Homo sapiens: one gene and its partner. The protein of the gene in region 1 purifies or fractionates together with the protein of each later gene. This does not show direct contact. Each region holds a gene or a part of one and is shown on either strand. Other genes may lie near its edges. The genes, in order: SPAG11A and MANBA.

Region 1 (3,760 bases):
TTTTTAAATTCCTTACTTGTAATTGGTGTTCACTACTATTGGAATTAGTATTCAACAAATTCAAGCAGGATCCAGAGAAAGGCAAAAGGCAGCTAAGCATTCAGGAATCTCCATGAACAGGGGCCCTGCCTTGCTCCAATTGCACAGAAATATGTTTTTTAGAAGGATCATAGAAGAATGAATGCTGGCTGATAGGCATACTGAGAATGCCATTTATGAATTGCTAGCCTGGGGGAAATGTGCTTCACCTGATGATTTTCATTTTTCTTTCATTCCTAAAATGGACCTGCTTACCCCCTATTATACACACTATCAGCTTGTTGTATTAATAAATTGAAATAGCCTAAGAGTAAATGCTTGAAAACAACACTATCCTACTGAAATGTGACCTGTTGGTGTTATTGCTTGAGGACGCATAAAGGGAAAAGGGATAAGGTGCATTACCATCTGGGTGAATAAGCAGGAGAAGGCTAGTGCTGGGTGTGTAAGAAAGAAGTCATCAGATGGAAAACAGAGCAGCAGATTGGTTGCATTTATGTCTCTCTGAAAATCAGTTTGGAGCTCGGTTTCTAGTCAGTTCCCATCTCCAGATACTTAAGAGATATTCCCTTGACTAGGAAAGGAAAGTGGAATATCACAAAATTCTGAGACCCCTTTGAAAAGGCAGTACATGGAGAAGTAAGGAAGTTAAAAAAATGTCTTTTATCAGCTCTTCACCTTTGGTGCTAAATTCATTCAACAAATATTTATTGAACACCTACTATAAGCCACACATTCCTTTAAGCCCTTGGGATACTTCAACATCCCTGCCTTCCGGGAGCTTATATTTTAGATCCCAGATCTGCCATCCATCTCTGGTTTCTCTTTTCCTTCTTCATCTGTATTTGATACGCAACACCTATTCCAGGGATCAGAGCTAATGTCACGCTTTTTCTCACCAGAATGGCAGAAAAAAAGTCTGCAGATCCCTTGCTGCATACGGCAGATGGTATTTCTAATTCCCAGTGGAACATCCCCTATGGATACAACAGAAGAGAGTTGACATTTAACTCATATAGTGCAGAGAATAGAAGATGAACCCAGCCCACTGCCAAGGGTTATATATTCTGACAAGGCTAAGTATTTTTGGACAAGCCCCAGTTTAACCGAACTTTGGCCTCTTAGCTTTAAAACAGGAACGATAATTTATATCTGAAATGTTGCCAGGAGGATGATAGGGTGTGTTTTATGAATGCTCACCTGGCCCATCTAGGCCCTAAAAAGCCCACGCAGATCTTAAATGAGGGTCCTCGAGCCTCCTGGTGAGAGATGTGCACTAGAAGGAAACAAAGGGAGTTTTGGAAAACAGAAGTGGTCCAGAATAGGACAGGTCTTGGTCTCTAAGGAAATTAGAGGTATTAACCCATTCTCAACTTATGGCCCAATTTTTAGTTTTATGTCCTACAACGAAAAGGAGAAAATAAAACCTCTCTCCTCACCAGGACCTGTGGGCTTGTAAGTCACAAATGACCACCTAAATTTTTATAACAACAGGACATTGGGCAAGAGATGGTTGAAAGAAAGATCTTACTTATGTCAGATCTGCAAATGCTACGTACGATGACTTTAAACAGCAGCAACAACAGCAGCAACAACAACAACAGCACAGTGTTGGTCTTGCGTGATTAGGAAAACACTCTTGCACAACATCCAACCTCCAAACGGGGTCTAATCCCTGATTCTGTATCATCTCAGCCCTGTCACAGCTTGGAGGAGACAGCAAAGTGAAGAAGGTGGGGGGTCCACCTTTAGTCAAGACAGAAGAGCCCCCAGCCTGGAAGCGTGGAGACCTGGATTCTGGTCTTACTTCTTCCAATATCTCATTATGTCTCCTTAGACAACTCATTTAACTGGTTACACTTCAGCTTGCCCATCTGTAAATGTGTTCTATGTGCAAGCAGGGGGAATATTATAAGTTTGAAGACCTACTATGACCATAAAGATTCATTGCACCATGGTAAATTAACACTTTCTCTGGACTTTGGTTTTCTTTTTGTAGAGCATGGGGCTGCTATAGACAATCTCTGATTCCCTTCCAGCTCTGACATTCATATGACTATAACTTCCTTCTGAAAACTTTTCTCAGACTGCAGTGAGTGCTTGCCACTTGTATCAGAGCAAGCATACCCCTTTGTCTTGTGTCAAGACCTTTATAACACTTATTTAGCTTTTAAAAAACTTCACAGGGGAGATCAAAATTGTCCAAGACTGAGCCCCACAGTGGCCCACCTGCATCCACTAACAACATACAGACACATCTACACACTGTCCATACAGACACACACATAAATGGAATTCCTGCACTACCTTCCCCAGGGCTAACCAGGAGACATTTACCTGAGTTTGTTTGGACCAAACAAAAGAGAACAGCAAACAGAAAAAAGACCTTCATGTTTTAAGGTCCGTTGAACCTCCCTGCCCTCCCGTGAAGGAGCACAAATATGATGAATGATGGAATGAAATGGAGCGGAGAAGGCACAAAATGGGACATTTATAGGTTTTTGGGAATACTGATCAGCATGAGCATATTTATCTGCTCTACTGAGTAAGGCTGTGGGCAGAAGGTTACTGACTACTCTTCCCTTTCTGCCTAAAAATAGACTGGCTTCCTGATATTCAGAGAAGCAGGGATCAACCAATAATTCCATATACGGATATTGAAGAGGAAAGTGAACCAACATTGAGGTGTGGCTACTTAGTGCCAAGCCCTGTGCTAGGTGCTAGAGACATGGTTGTGTAAAGATATATTTTCTGCCTTCAGAAAGCTGCGGTGTCCACCACAGTTGAGCAGATAATTAGCTTATTTCCCAGCAACATGACTCCCATCTACCAACAGAAACATAGGCCCACGTGCATTAGGAGACATGTGCACGAACGTTCATTGTAGCACATTTCCTTGCAGCCAAGAGAATGCAACCAAATAGTGTATTATGACAACAACAAAACACAATGTATTTCCACACCACAACAAGAATAGAAAAACAAGAAGATGTGTACAACAACGTGGATGAACCTCACAAACGCTATGCTGAAAGAAAAAAAAAACAGAGACAACGTACCACATTATTCCAAAAATTTGGCAAAATTCACCTATTTATGAAGAGCCAGGATATTGTCTACTTTGGAGGAAGAGGACATGCTCTTCTCTCATTTGATGAAGTTATCCGCTGTCGGAGGTGACAGTCTAGTGAGGGATGCAGAGAGCCCCCGGCAACCACAGGGCTGTGTCATCCTGGGCTGGAGGGAGGTTTGTGGGCTCTGGGGTGCTGGGAGTTGTGAAAACAGAATCTGCAAGGACACGATATTTTTGTGTGTGGGTTTATATAATGTGTGGTATTAAAACACACAGTGGATAAAGCTGCACATTTTGCCCCTATTTGATTTTAGTCCCAGGATCACTTAGATTTATTTCCCTTAAAATTCTCTTAAGCAAAAGGGGCAAGAGAGAAGGATGTCTTCTCTCCTATCCCCCTGGGCTTCATAACAATTGCTGTTAGCTTCTTATTAATCCTTCCAGAGGTGTCCCATGTGTATGGAAGCAGAGATGAATCCATACCCCATTTTTATGTAAGCAATAGCAGACTCTAGATATCATTCTGGACTTGCCTATATTACTTGTTATAGCTTGCAGAGCCTTGTTATTCTTCAGATTAGACACATCATATTTTCTGCAAGCTGTCTTCTGCGTTATTTAACCAGCCTCAACAACCATATCTCACCA
Region 2 (3,824 bases), on another chromosome or scaffold:
AATTTTTAGGTGATAAATAGCTGTTGTTAATAATTTATTTTATGTTTGTTTTATTAATTTATTTGTGCATATTTAACCATCTACCATAATTTTTACCTTGTATCAACAGGATTCTTACTACAGATTTAATGACCTTAACTACAGATGGGTCTCTTTGGATAACTGGACCTATAGCAAAGAATTTAAAATCCCCTTTGAAATTAGGTATGTATGTTTGTGGGTGTATTTTTATTATTATTTGAACTTTTCTTCTTTTTCTATCTGGGCAAAAATGTTGTGTTTTGTTTGTTTTTTTTTTGTTTTGTATGTTTTGTTTTGTTTTGTTTGTTTAGGTTACATATCTGAGAGTTAAGTAAGATGAAAGCCTTGTACTATAAAAGTGAATATATTATTTATGTTTTGTTTTGTATATGAGGATGGTGCTACTAATCAACAGTCACCAAATTGTGTCTTATGGAGTCATTTTTCCAGTGGTTATGCCCTATGTAGTGCTAACCAGCCATTGAGACTATGACCTTGACCTATACTATGTGGTGAAGCCAGGAGGTGAAGCACAGATACTGTTTTCAGTAATGTTCTGTTATTATAAGCAAATATTTCCATATGAGGTAGAATGTTACCCAAAGGTACCACCACTACTGCTAAATGAAAAAAAAAATCCTTCTGTCCCTTTTATGTGATTTTTTTTTTTTGGTAATTATTTACTAGTCTTTTAAAGGGGGGAAAAGGCCAGAATATTGTTATCAATATCATGGAGTTACTGCTGTGCTCCAGGCTTTTATTTACAGATAATATTTAGAATATCTTTCGTAATGGTTCTATTTCACCTTGAACTCAACATATCCAATTGATTTTCCCCCTTAAAACTAACTTTATATTCTAACAGCTTCATTGTTTTTCTTGATGTAACACCATTTTCCAGTCTATGTCTAAGGTGCTTTGGGCTTATTACATCTTTTCTTCATCTTCCTGTGTTCAGTCTGTTCTGGGTGGGTCTTGCAAATTTTTGTTTAACATTTCTCTTGGTTTGGCCCCTTCCATCTCATTTCCATCTTTCCATCTTTGCCTAGAAGAGTGCCAGGAAAGAGGCCAAAGCTGCCTAATCAAATTTCTTGCTTTGTTCTTTTATTCTCCAATCTTTTCAATTTAGAAACATTAGATTAATCATCACAGAATATTGATTGTGCCAAGATAGGTATTCGTTCAAGAATAGCAAGTGTCTATTTTACTTGGCAAATCAAGTATAAACTTCTCACTTGTCTGTGAAAATACAGCTGAAAGATGTCTGTCCCTGTAACACTGCCCGCACCTCTCTGCCCCTTGGATTTGTCCAGCTTTTTCCTCCTTAGCTCCCCAGCCCAAATTACACATATGAGTCGATTACCTAAAAGTAATTCATGCTGTCAGCACTTCCTTGTTTTGGTTTTGCTCTTTGCAGGGGTAAGGGGTTCCTGCAAAGAGCAAAGGGTATAAGGGGAGTAGAAATGCCTCCACCCAGTCATTTCTACCTAGTTTTAAAAAAAATACTTTATTGATATATAATTAACATATTGTACAATTCAGTCATTTAAGGTATATAATTCAATGGTTTTTAGTATACTTACAGTTACAAAACCATCACCACAATCAATTTTAGAACATTTTCCTCATCCCCCCACAAAAAGTTACACCCATTAGCAGTCATTTCCCATTGCCCACTCCTCCTGCCCCTGAATTCTTACCCCAGCCCTAGGAACCACTAATTTACTTTCTGTCCCTCTGGATTTCCTTGTTCTGGATACCTCATATAAATGGAATCATACAATATGTGGGCCTTTGTGACCGCCTCTTTCACTTAGCATAATAATGTTTTCAAAGTTCATCCATGTTGTAGCATGTATCAGTACTTCATTCCTTTTTATTGTTGAATAGTATTTTATTGTATGAATACAACACATTTTATTTATTCTTCTCTTCATTAAGTTCTTGTTTCCATTTTGAAATCTTTTCTTATGAGATAAACTCTGATAGCACTTGTAGTTGTTCAACAATATTGCCAGCCAGCCACCAAATGCCAACCAGATTGCAGACTCCTTAAGTACAGGCACTGTTATAGTTTCCTGTAAGGCTTAGCAGAGTGCTGGGTGCATAATATTCACTTATAGATGATAGTTTTCTAACGTGTTCTCTTAGACAGGGTCAGTAAATGTAGTTTGTGAGAACATTTTATGTCTATTATTTAACTTGGTTCTCATTTTTTTTTTTTTTTTTGAGACGGAATCTTGCAAGTGCAGTGGTGGGATATCCACTCACTGCAACCTCCGCCTCCTGGGTTCAAGTGTTTCTCCTGCCTCAGCCTCCCTAGTAGCTTGGATTACAGGCACCCGCCACCACGCCTGGCTAGTTTTTTGTAATTTTAGTAGAGACAGGGTTTCGCCATGTTGGCCAGGATGGTCTCGAACTCCTGACCTCAGGTGATCTGCCTGCCTAGGCTTCCCAAAGTGCTGGGATTACAGGCGTGAGCCACTGCTCCTGGCCTAACTTGGTTCTCATAATAGCTTTCTGAAGTATTAACTAGAAAAAGTCAATATATTTGGAAATTATAAGTTGTGCTCTTGGTTTTATGGTGATTTATTGATACATTATAGAGAAAGATAAGCTGGATCACTCAAAGGACGTAAGTATGTTTTAAAGCAGTACTTCTGAAAATGTCACTGGAAACTGCCTTTTAAGAACATATATTTTTTGTGGAATATTTATTTCTTTAGGCCTTAAATAATAAAAAAGAGACTTATCTAAGTTAATGCTTTACACATCTTGTTTTAAAAATCTTTTCTTTTTTTTAGCAAATGGCAAAAAGTAAATTTGATTCTTGAGGGAGTGGATACGGTTTCAAAAATCCTGTTCAATGAAGTCACTATTGGGGAAACAGACAATATGTTCAATAGATATGTAAGTATATAATGACATTAGGTTAAAAAAAATTTATGTGTGTTTATGTTAATTGCTTTTGTGAGTAGAGAAAAGTAAATGCATAATTGGCCATGTGACAAATATGAGCTCATTAAAGCACTGGATGAGTTACTTGATTTCTCAGTTGCCACATTTGTGGAATAATGGAAACCTTACAAACCCCATGGGGTTAGTGTGGGGATTTAGTAAGCTAATTGTATAAAATGTTGGCAAGTTCTTGGCACATAGGAAGTGTTCAAAACATGCCAATCCCTCCTCTGCTGATACAGTTTCATTGGACAAATGATTTTAAAATAAAATGTCATTTCCTTTCTGGAATAGTTATATTAAGAGATTATATGCTGATCTTCCTTTCCTTTCAAAGGTAGACTTTTCAAAACAAAAATAACTCATTACTTAGAAATGCATGCTGTTCATACCGGAGAGGCAGGTTGTCATGAAGTGTCTAGGAAACCCTTGGCAGTTCAAGGCCACATATAAGTAGACAGAGCAGACATTCCAGAGCTAAAGTTATTTTTTGCTCTATCCATTTCCCTAGGACCATCATTTTGCCAGGAAAAATAGAAGGAGAAGCCTAGAAACTTGGATTGGGTAGGAAAATATGCTTAGTTTTAACTAAAAGTGGGCAACTAAGTGATAGATACTACAGTGTTTCAGAGAAGTGTTCCCTCCTGCAAGGAGGCTAAACCTAGATCGGCATTATATTATGTGTCTTTCATACAAAATGCCTTTATCTAAAATTTTACACACAAGACTACTTCCACATCATGGGTTTGTCTGATTGTTCCCTTTAACTTAGAGCTTTGATATTACCAACGTGGTCAGGGACGTGAACTCCATTGAGCTGCGTTTCCAGTCAGCGGTGTTGTATG

What was found.
Region 2: the proteins of SPAG11A (region 1) and MANBA purify together in Homo sapiens (affinity purification with mass spectrometry, with the first as the bait; one large-scale study listed by BioGRID). This does not show direct contact.

Annotation. Positions count from the first base shown.
Region 1 is NC_000008.11:7,857,902-7,861,661, reverse strand, and holds the end of SPAG11A (sperm-associated antigen 11A isoform 3 precursor), read right to left. Parts: intron 2,432-3,760; coding exon of another isoform or gene 2,377-2,431; intron 1,316-2,376; coding exon of another isoform or gene 1,240-1,315; intron 1,017-1,239; coding exon 829-1,016; 3' UTR 719-828; downstream 1-718. UniProt on the Homo sapiens protein: Has antimicrobial activity against E.coli. Plays a role in the defense response in the male reproductive tract, contributing to sperm maturation, storage and protection.
Region 2 is NC_000004.12:102,722,969-102,726,792, reverse strand, and holds part of MANBA (beta-mannosidase precursor), read left to right. Parts: intron 1-109; coding exon 110-204; intron 205-2,825; coding exon 2,826-2,931; intron 2,932-3,751; coding exon 3,752-3,824.